Homo sapiens: one gene and its partner. The protein of the gene in region 1 interacts with the protein of each later gene in a pairwise test. Each region holds a gene or a part of one and is shown on either strand. Other genes may lie near its edges.

What was found.
Region 2: the proteins of NUP133 (region 1) and AAAS interact in a two-hybrid assay, tested with the Homo sapiens proteins (one study listed by IntAct).

Annotation. Positions count from the first base shown.
Region 1 is NC_000001.11:229,439,520-229,442,397, forward strand, and holds the end of NUP133 (nuclear pore complex protein Nup133), read right to left. Parts: intron 2,522-2,878; coding exon 2,385-2,521; 3' UTR 740-2,384; downstream 1-739. UniProt on the Homo sapiens protein: Involved in poly(A)+ RNA transport. Involved in nephrogenesis.
Region 2 is NC_000012.12:53,318,571-53,326,220, forward strand, and holds the start of AAAS (aladin), read right to left. Parts: upstream 3,041-7,650; 5' UTR 2,896-3,040; coding exon 2,773-2,895; intron 2,123-2,772; coding exon 1,995-2,122; intron 1-1,994. UniProt on the Homo sapiens protein: Plays a role in the normal development of the peripheral and central nervous system.

The DNA of each region.
Region 1 (2,878 bases):
ATTCTCCCATCTTGGTCACCCAAAGTGCTAGGATTACAGGTGTGAGCCACCATACCTGACCCAGTATTATTTTTTTTAAATGTATCTTGGTTTTTAATGAGTGGATTTGTTTACACGGGTGTGTGTGTGTGTATATATATATATATATATATATTTTTTTTTTTTTTTTCACGCATCCTCAGGATAAAATGTCAGGAACAGGCTACACTGCTTTTGTAGTTAGCCTCAAAATGTCCAGGTGTGTAGGATGTAGGTGGGTGATGGTAGGAAAACTACGATTCAGCCCCTAAAGTAAAAAAAGAAACACAGTTCAATCATTAAAAATGAAAGCCCTCAAAGAGAGGCGTCAGTAGCCTTTACCTCACTCAGGAGTTCAGCAAGTTTTTACTGTCTATCTCCAGGTCTGCTGCAATCCTTGACACCATTCTGTCCACAAATCCTCCAGACGCGCCAGTCTCCATGCCTGCGTACACTCCCCTCTGCTCAGGATCGCACACGACACTTTACTCTTGTATTCTGTCAAGGTCCCAAGCTGGGACTCTCAGGGCAGCACTTATAGACAGGTGTGATCACGAACCTTTTCCAAGTCAGTAAAGTATCTCTTTCCACAGAAATGTCAACACAGCATCTGTATACTTATCAGCTACTTGATTTATATAAAAACCATTAATAACTCGTTGATGAAGACTACGTTGTGAAACCAATTTTTAAAATTCTAGAGAAAAAATTATTCAAAATCCTAGGTCTTAATTTCATTTTTACTGTTAAAATAATTTTTAAAAACTCAACCATTTGGGTGTAATAGCTACTAACTTAGAGAGAAACAGGATTAAAAGAGGGAGCTTTTTCTTCCCTTGAACAGGATGACTCTACTTCACACGGTAAGAGCAGTCGTTCTACGTCCACGCGATCAGTGGGTTCTGGGGCATGATCAGATGGGCTTTCCTGCGGTACTGTCCCATACACCAGGGATCACCAGGTTTGCAGCAGCACGGGAGGGAGATGGGAGCCTGTGTGTCTCGCAGCACATTATCACCCGACAGGGTCCTACAGGTGAGACGTGAACACTGACAGCTGACCTCCACGTAAAAGCAAAGCCTCATCTTACGATACAAGTACTCAGCGGTTTCTTACTGGCCATCTGACAAGCTGCTCTTCCTAACTTCTCTTAGTACCTTCCAACATGTTCCTAACCCAGACCCTAATGCTGTCCTAACATACAAGCTGCAAAGAGAAAAAGAACAGGCTGCTAATTTCTTCCCTTTGATTTACAAACAGCTCCATTAACCTGCTCTTCCAAACATACTCAAGGGCTGGCCTTGCAGCCTGCGGGGGAGACGGCCTGATGCTGGGCTCTGTGAATCCAGGAACCGGACTCTTCACCATGTTTAACTTCTGACCTTTTCAGCTGCTGGAGCAAGATGGTTAGTGGGCATTCTACTGGGCCAAGCCGCGGACATGCCAGCAACTCCCTGTCCAACCTCTGGCCTTTATTTAAAACCCAGATAAACATTGAGTGAGTGATGACACTGGTCAGGACAAAGCTCTGAGAGTACAGTACCTTTCAGTCACATCAATTGCCATATTAGGAAAACCTATAATGGTTTCTAGTATCATTCATGCTTTTGACTAGCTAGGCAGACTGTGGTAAAGATTCATGAGTCATTCTGAAAATACATGAGGCTGGCTGAATCCCCACACTGAAAGATTAGAACTAAACATCAACAGTAATTTCTAGATAGGTTAGAAAACCACATAAACGTTTCATTCACTAAAATACTTTCATTAGTGCTCATTTATTATTTATGTAGAAAAGTTTAAAATGCTCCCAATGAGTTCATCAGTTATCAAGCTCACATGAGTTAGGCCCACTCTCCTTTGGTTTTTCATCTCATAATAAGTCAGCAAAAGTTGACATTTATCTTACTAGACATTTCCCATTAGCCCTAACTGAAACAGATATCAAACACCCTAGATTCTCTTCAGTGCAAAGTATCTGGAGTCACAGCAATTTTAGAGACAAGCTAGTGCAATCTAGTAATTTTCATAGTCGCAGAAACTGAGGCCTAGAAGTGATTTGTACATGTGAGCAGCTAGAACCAGGACAAGAACTCCAGAACCTGGGACCACGTGAGAGTAAAAAGAAAGGGCACCGAGTACAGGAACAACAACTGACACATTTCAGGTGGAAAAAACAAGTCACATAACTGAAAACCAAAATCACAGTTACATAACTATTTTATATTAGCTTCCTACATATAAAGTATAAAAACTCAGCTATACATGTTATGAAATTGTACAAACTTACACTTGTTTATGGCCTAAAATTTGTATAAGGACACACTTATACAGATTTCATAAACAATGGCCATTTTTAGAAAAAGTTATATTTGTCCCTGAACATAATATTCATAATTTGCTTTCAAAACAAACTCGAAGTAAGGATTGGACTTTAAGCTTCCAAGCTGATCCGCTTGTAGCAGGTCTTTCACCTCCGGTAAGTACTCACTGAGCTGAATGCCTATAAACACAAACACAAGAAGTCATTTTTCAATTATTATAAAATGCTCAAATGAATTCTGATGATTGATGACAAAAGCACCTGTGCTTCTATTTAAATATAACGTCACTTTGCTGTTGGGAAATACTCTCTTCTAAATTCCTTCCATCTGTCAAACATACTTTCAAGTCTAACAATGTGATATCCTTTACAGGGGCTGCCTGAGTGTTTTTCCCTCCAGTGGTCAAAATAGCCATTCTATTTAAAGTGTTTAATAAGATCTGAAACGTTTTCATGTATTCCCAAGCTTGAAAACAAGTATTTCAAACACTTATATGATCCCCTATTTAGGGAATAATTTAGTAGAAACACTGTTAT
Region 2 (7,650 bases), on another chromosome or scaffold:
AGGTAATCTAAGTAGAAAGTAGCAGTCAGGATTCAACCATCTATCTACCCCAGAACCTATACTCAAACCACTTTTTCCTGAATGAGTAATATGATCATTCCTTAAAGTGAACCATCCAGAGAAGCAGATTTGGAGAGAGAAATAAAGAGACTGGATTTGAGCATGCTGAATATATGAAGTCTGCGAAATATTCAAGCAGGATAATTTGGCAAACACGTGAACACCAGGTCTGATGCATCAACTGGAAATCTAGCCCCAAGAACACCAACATTTAAGGGACATCAGGAAGAGGAGCCACCAAAAACCCTGAGAAGCAGCAGCCACAGAAGTAGGAGACAAGGAGCCTGGGAATGAATGGCTTTTCAACAAACTGATATTCAACTTCACACACACAGGCATGCCCATTAAACTGTACTGAAGTACCAAAGATCAAAGCTTGACAGCACATGTGTTGGAAAACAGGCACTCCCATACACTGCTGGTGGGACCATATACATGTACCATTTTGACAGAGGGCTATTTGGAACAGCTCACAAAATTACAGATGAACATACCCTCTGAGCCAGCAACTTAATTTCTAGGAATTTATCCTACAAATGGTAATGGTATTAATAAAAATATTAAGTAACCCTTTTTTTTTTTTTGAGACAAGGTCTCACTCAGTGCCACTGCACTGGCACAATCTTGGCTCACTACAACCTCCACCTCCCAGGCTCAAGTGATCCTCCTATACATAAGCCTCCCAAGTAGCTGGGAATAAAGGTGCATGCCACCATACCCAGCTAATTTTTGTACTTTTCTTGTAGAGAAAAGAACATGGTTTCGCCATGTTCCCCAGGCTAGTCTCAAACTACTAAGCTCAAGCAATCTGCTGGCCTCAGCCTACCAAAGCGCTGGGATTATAGGCGTGAGTCACTGTGCCTGGCATAAATAACCCTTAAAGGAATTAATATGTGCCATTAATAGGTCCAGGTGCAGTAGCTGTAATCTCAGCACTTTGGGAGGCCAAGGCAGGCCTGAGGTCAGGAGGCCAGACCACCCTGGCCAACATGGTGAAATCTCATCTCTACTAAAATACAAAAAGTTAGCTGGGCGTGGTGGCACATGCCTATAGTACCAGCTACTCGGGAGGCTGAGGCAGGGGAACTGCTTGAACCAGAGAGGCGGAGGCTGCAGTGAGCCGAGATCGCACCTCTGCACTCCAGCCTGGCAACACAGCAAGACTCCGTCTCAAAAAAAAAAAAAAAAAAAAAAAGAAAAAGAAAATGAGCCGGGCGCGGTGGCTCACGCCTGTAATCCCAGCACTTTGGGAGGCCAAGGCGGGCACATCATCTGAGGTCGGAAGTTCAAGACCAGCCTGACCAACATGGAGAAACCCTGTCTCTACTAAAAATACAAAATTAGCTGGGCGTGGTGGCACATGCCTGTAATCCTAGCTACTCGGGAGACTGAGGCAGAAGAATCGCTTGAACCTGGGAGGTGGAAGTTGCAGTGAGCTGAGCACGCCACTGCACTCCAGCCTGGGCAACAAGAGTGAAACTCCATCTCAAAAAAAAAAAAGAAAATGAAACCAGGTAGTGTAGCTCCACTCCTACAAGTGCAAAGTGGATGACCTATGTAGGAGATTATTCAGTGCAACCTTATATCTGATCTTGCTGAGCTTCAGGTAAAAGCTCAGAAGTGGTAATGCCATGAGGTGGGGGCAGGGAGCAGGTTCACCTAATCAAGCCAGAAAGCAAGGCAAGTTACTAGAGATGAAATGGAAGTACTTTTTCCATAGTGTTCCTGGGAAGGGCAAGGAAGGGAACCTGACATTTATTGAGCATTTGAGTTCTATAATAAGGACTAAAAATTTCATATGATTTAGGATATACAGCTCTCGTGGAGACAGCCTGAATAAAAGTCTTTTGAAGAACACCCCAAGGTAAAGGGGTGTTGACTCATTTTCCAGGATCTGCAGACTGTGACCCAGGAAACCCTTTGCCATGCCTCACCAAATGTTGATGCATCTCTTCCACACTTGCTCCCGGTGATGGATGAAGGCAGTTCTTGTGCCATGGTCCAGCCTTCCAGGGGTCTTTAGGGGATCCTTTGTCAGTTGTAGGACAGGAAGATTGATCCACTATAGCACAAAAGTGAGGAGTGTGACGGTGATTCAGTCTCTTCCCAAATCTTTAATTCCGTGCCATCTCCAACCCACCGCTGGGCTAAGTATAAGAGATTCCAGAGGTCTGTTTCCCATTTCCACAAAGCTAACACTTGTGAGAATGGGAAACAAGTCTTAGCTCCCGTATCTGTGCAACTAGAATAATATTTCATAGGGTTGCTGTGATTATGAAACCATATGACATTTTTAGAAAACACCTGACTCAGCCTCTTTCTTACATAGCAAACGCTCAATAAATGTCAGTTTCCCTTCCTTGTCCTTCCCAGGAACACCATGGAAAAAAGTTCCATGTTGTATCCTTCTGATCCTCCCCAGATACTGTCCCCAACTTTTAGATAGTTCTCCCGCATCCTCACACTCCCTAGATTCTCCCTCATTCTCTCCATTCCCTCTAGGCCTCCTCCACAGCTCCTTAACCGTTCCCCCGTTATACTCCAATCCCAGTCCTAAAACAGATTCCAGCCCTTCTAGCCTCCTGCCGGGGCCAAGCTGTTTCCACTCCGCCAGACTCTGTGACCCTGCCCCTGTCACACTGCCTCCTTTCCCCAGTAGTCCCCGACTCCGCCCCCATGCCTGTAGGTCCCCTCCCTCCTCGCCCTGGCCACCTGGCCCCGGAAGTCGGGGGGCGGGCTCTCATAGCTACTGCCCGTCACCAGCTCGTTATTGTGCTCATATAGGGTGACTTGACCCCGAGGCGGTGGAGGAGGGAACAACCCCAGAGAGCACATCTTGCCGGTTCGCAGGACGTCTGCAGTCGGCAAACTCCTGGCCGGAACGGCACAGACCGCACTCCCGCAACTCGGTTCCCGGGCTAGATTCGTATGCGGACGGGTACCGCAAGGGACAAACGGCGAGGCGGAACTCAACGGAAGTGAAGAAAAGACTAACGGGAAAGAAGGACGAGTACGCGGTCCCGGGACAGACCTCCAAAGCTTCTTCCTGCGCCCCCTGGCGGCCGGAGGGGGAGCAGCGCGGACACGTCCCCCGGCCAACCGTTGGTTACCAGGCTGGAGTGGGGTTTTTTTCTGTTGTTTTCCATGAGACTACTGTTTTTCCCAGCTCCGAATTCCCGAACACCTTCTCCCACTCACTATCTTAGCGCTTAGAAAGCCCGAAATAAGCCACATTCAGGGAAGTACCAAATTAATCCTCCCAGGCCTGTGGATCACCCAGAGGAAAATACAGGCTATGTCACAGGCAGCTGGCTGGAAAGCTGAGGGAAAAGCCTCAGAGAGGAGGAACAGTGCTGCACCCACACGGTTAGGCGTCCTGGAAAGGGAGGTGGGGACGGTTGGAAAACTAACATTTCCTGCCAGGCGCGGTGGCTCACGCCTGTAATCCCAGCACTTTGGGAGGTCGAGGTGGGTGGATCATCTGAAAGGAGTTCGCAGACTAGCCTGGCCAACATGCTGAAAACCCCATCTATACTAAAAATACAAAAATTAGTCGGGCGTGGTGGCGGGCACCTGTAATCCCAGCTAATCGGGAGGCTGAGGCAGGAGAATCTCTTGAACTCCGGAGGGGGAGGTTGCAGTGAGCCAAGATCGCACCATTGCACTCCAGCCTGGGTAACAAGAGGGAAACTTCGTCTCAAAAAGGAAAACTTTATTTTATTTTATTTTTTTGAGAGACAGGGTCTCGCTCTATTGCCCAGGATGAAGGCAGTGGTGCTATCTCAGCTCACTGCAACCTCTGCCTCCCCGGTTCAAGCGATTATCCTGCCTCAACCTCTGGAGTAGCTGGGATTACAGGCATGCTTCACCACGCCCAGCTAAGTTTGTATTTTTAGTAGAGACGAGGTTTTACCATGTTGGCCAGGCTGGTCTCAAACTCCTGACCTCAAGTGATCTGCCTGCTTTGGCCTCCCAAATTGCTGGGATTACAGGCCTGAGCCACCTTGCCGGGCTGCAAAACTATTTCCTGAGCACTTGTTACGATAAGTGCTTTTATAATCTTTACAACCCCATAAGGTGGGTGCTGTTCTGTCACCATGAGGAAAGTGAGTCACAGAGAGATTGGACCTAGATACACCCAAACCAGTTATTCTCACTTAAGAATAAAAGTAAGGCTGGGTGTGGTAGCTCACACCTGTAATCCCAGCACTTTGGGAGGCCGAGGCTGATCTCTTGAGCCCAGGAGTTCAAGACCAGCTTGGGCAAAATAGCAAGACCCTGTATCTACAAAAAATTCAAAAGTTAGCCAGCGTGGTGGTGGCAAGCGTCTTTAGTCCAGCTACTCAGAAGGCTGAGATAGGAGAATCCAGACTACAATGATCCAAGATAGCACCACTGCACTCCAGCCTGGGTCAAAGAGCGAGACCCTGTCAAGCAAGCCAGAGAGAAAGAGCCGGGCGCGGTGGCTCACGCCTGTAATCCCAGCACTTTGGGAAGCTGAGGTGGGCTGATCCCCTGAGGTCGGGATTTCGAGACCAGCCTGACCAACATGGAGAAACCCCATCTCTACTAAAAAATACAAAACCAGCCAGGCATTGTGGTGCATGCCTGTAATCCCAGCTACTCGGGAGGCTGAGGCAGGAGAATCCCTTGAACCTGGAAGGCGGAGGTTGCAGTGAGCAGAGATCGCGCCACTGCACTCCATCCAACCTGGGCAACAAGAGCGAAACTCCGTCTCAAAAAAAAAAAAAAACAAAAAACAAAACAAAACAAAAAAAAATGGGAGGGAAGGGAGAGGGAGAAAGAAAGGAAAGAAAGAAAGAGAATGGGGGCCCCTCTTACAGACTTTGGAAAAAACATTGAATTCTTTGAGTCTCACTTTTCTCATTTGCAGTGTCCTAATTATTTCATATGGTTGTTTTCCATACAAAATAATAAAATGAAGCTATTTAATAAATTTTAAAGTGCTAAACAAATGTCAGAGGTTAATAGCTATAACTGTGCCATCAACTAGGTGACCTTGGTCAGAGTTCATTAACAAATGTTAAGTGATTTGAAGATGTAGAAGGCTGTCCCCACTCCCAAGAGCTACCAGTCTCATTGAATAATCTAGGGGGCATTTAGTTCTAGTATTCTGGATTCCGTGTCTGCCCTTCTTTTTCACCTGAAAAATTCCCCCCAAGAGAGTTATTACCAGGTCAGAAAACAAAGGGCTCCAGAGTCTCCTGAAAATGCACTTCACCTGAGAAGGCAAGTGGATCTCCTCTAATCTAGTACTTCTCAACTGTTAAGGGACATAGGAATCACCTGAGCATCTCCTAAGGTGGCGCTCAGAGGCTATAGTTCCAAAGAATCCCCAGCTGATACTGCACAGACCACATTTTAAGTAGCAAGGCTCTAACCTAGCGGTCCCCAACTTTTTGGCACCAGGTTTAGTGGAAGACAGTTTTTCCAGGGGGAGCGGGGGAGGGAATGGTTTGGGGATGAAACTGTTACACCTGAGATCATCAGGCATTAGTTGGATTCTCATAAAAAGCGGGCAACCTAGGTCCTTCACGTGCGCAGTTCACAACAGAGTTCGCGCTACTATGAGAATCTAATGCCGCTGATCTGACAGGAGGCGGAGCTCAGCTTGCTCAGCTCGTCTCCGGCTGTGCGGTTCCTTTACAGGCCACCGACACGACGGGCCGTGGCGCGACCCCTGCTCTAACCTTTTCCCATAGCCCCATTTAATTTCCTATGTGAGTTCACCGTCACCTGGGAAGTCACAGAAAGCTTGAAGAACATAAGGTATACACTGGGGATGGTTTGGGGAACCTGGCTGGGAAAGCCTCCCTGAGAAGGGGAAGTGGGCAGGTTTGAGGGAGAGGAAGTCGGTGACTGACAGATTAGTGGAGAGCACTGAGGACCCACGATAGTTTCCGTTTGTACCTTAGTCGTAACACCATCCAAACCCAGATACCCCTAGGAAAAATCACTCCGGCCTGCAACTTGCATCCTTCGATGAAACCTCGATTTTCACCATCAGGTTATAATGATCGGTTAGGTGCCTGCTTCTTACCCTGTAAGGTGAACTGGAGAGAAGGAACAGTGCTGTTCCGCCCGCTGCCCCCGCCCTGGCCTGGCACAAGTACTGTCCCCTCCTCCATACTGCTTATTTAACGTTTGTGGAACGCTTTTCACCATTTGCGGGTTCTAGAAAGGCCCAAGTCCAGGCCCGGCGCGCTCACCCAGTAACTTCACCAGGGGGCGCGGCTGGCCAGGCAACGCAGCGACCGTGACCCACGCCCTATGGGCTCCGAGCGCTTAGCGGGCGGTCTCCGCCGGCCCCTCCCTACGACCTGGGCGGGAACCGAGAGAGCGCGCAGGCCGCTTCTAAAAGGGGCCCCCTACTTTGGGAGTCGTCACCGGAGCCTGGGTGCCCGGAGCTCCGCCCGCTACCCCTTCCCGGGCCCGCTGGAGCCCGGCGTCCCGACCCGGGGCCGGTAACCAGGCGCACATGGCCCGCCCGGCCCTGTTTGTCCTGGCAGCGCGCCGCCGCTATTTGAAGCGGTTTTTATCTCCCAGAAACCAGCAAAACCCCAAGCGGAGTCTAGGGAAGATGAAAGGGGCCGAAGGGTTGGGGAGGGGAGGACCGCGAGGCTGCGGCGGGCGGGAGCTGGCACCGGACAGGCGGAGACCGGGAGGCGAGAGGGCCAGACTCTGGGGGGTCCGGAGGAGCCCGCCCGGCGGGGTTGAGGCGGGATCCCGGGGTTCCACTCCAGGCCGCCGCCTCGCTCAGACCAGCTCCAAGGCGCCCCCCGCCTTTCCTCTGCCCCAGCCCCCTCTCCCGGGTCTCTTCCGTCACAGCCCCCAGCCCACTAAAGAAGTCTTCGGAACTCGGATTTCTTCAAAGCGCCTTTGAAGTCGCGCGCCCAGCCGGAGGGCAGGAGATTTCGCACCTGGGCGGGGGCGGGAGTGGCGTCAGGGTGGGGAGGGGGCTCGTAACCCGAGCCCCCCCAGGATCGCCGGCCCCCTCCCACCCGTAGCAGCCCCTCTTGCGACCCGTGCGGTGGACAGTCCGACGCGGGGCGCAGCTGGGAGTCGGGCCCAGGCCGGGGGGAGCGGCCTGTGAGCCCCCTCAGCCCAGCGGGGTAACCTTGGGGGGCGGGGGCCGCACAAAGCCCTATTGTGGCTCGGGGATGCTGCCACAGAGTGGTTTTTGTTCTTCGGCTAACTCCGTGGCGGGCACGACTGATTGCAGACCCAGGGCAGGGGGCGGGTTACGTGCCAGGCCCAGTCTGCCCGCCGGGAGCCGCACCACCGCCCGACTGGGGCCGCGCAGGAGTCCGCACTGCAACCGCGGTGCCCGCGCTCGGGTCGCGTCACTGCCCTGACCAGGGTCAGTTGGTGCAGTCCAGAAAGGGCCAGGGTAGAAACCAGTGAGTCTTCCCAACTCTGCAGAAAGCACTGCACGCCCAAAAACTGAACACCGCTGGAGGATTTGACCGAGAAACAATTTTGTTTTGTGTTTTGTTTTGAGACGGAGTCTCGCTCTGCAGCCCACGCTGGAGTGCAGTGGCGCGATCTCAGCTCACTGCAACCTCCACC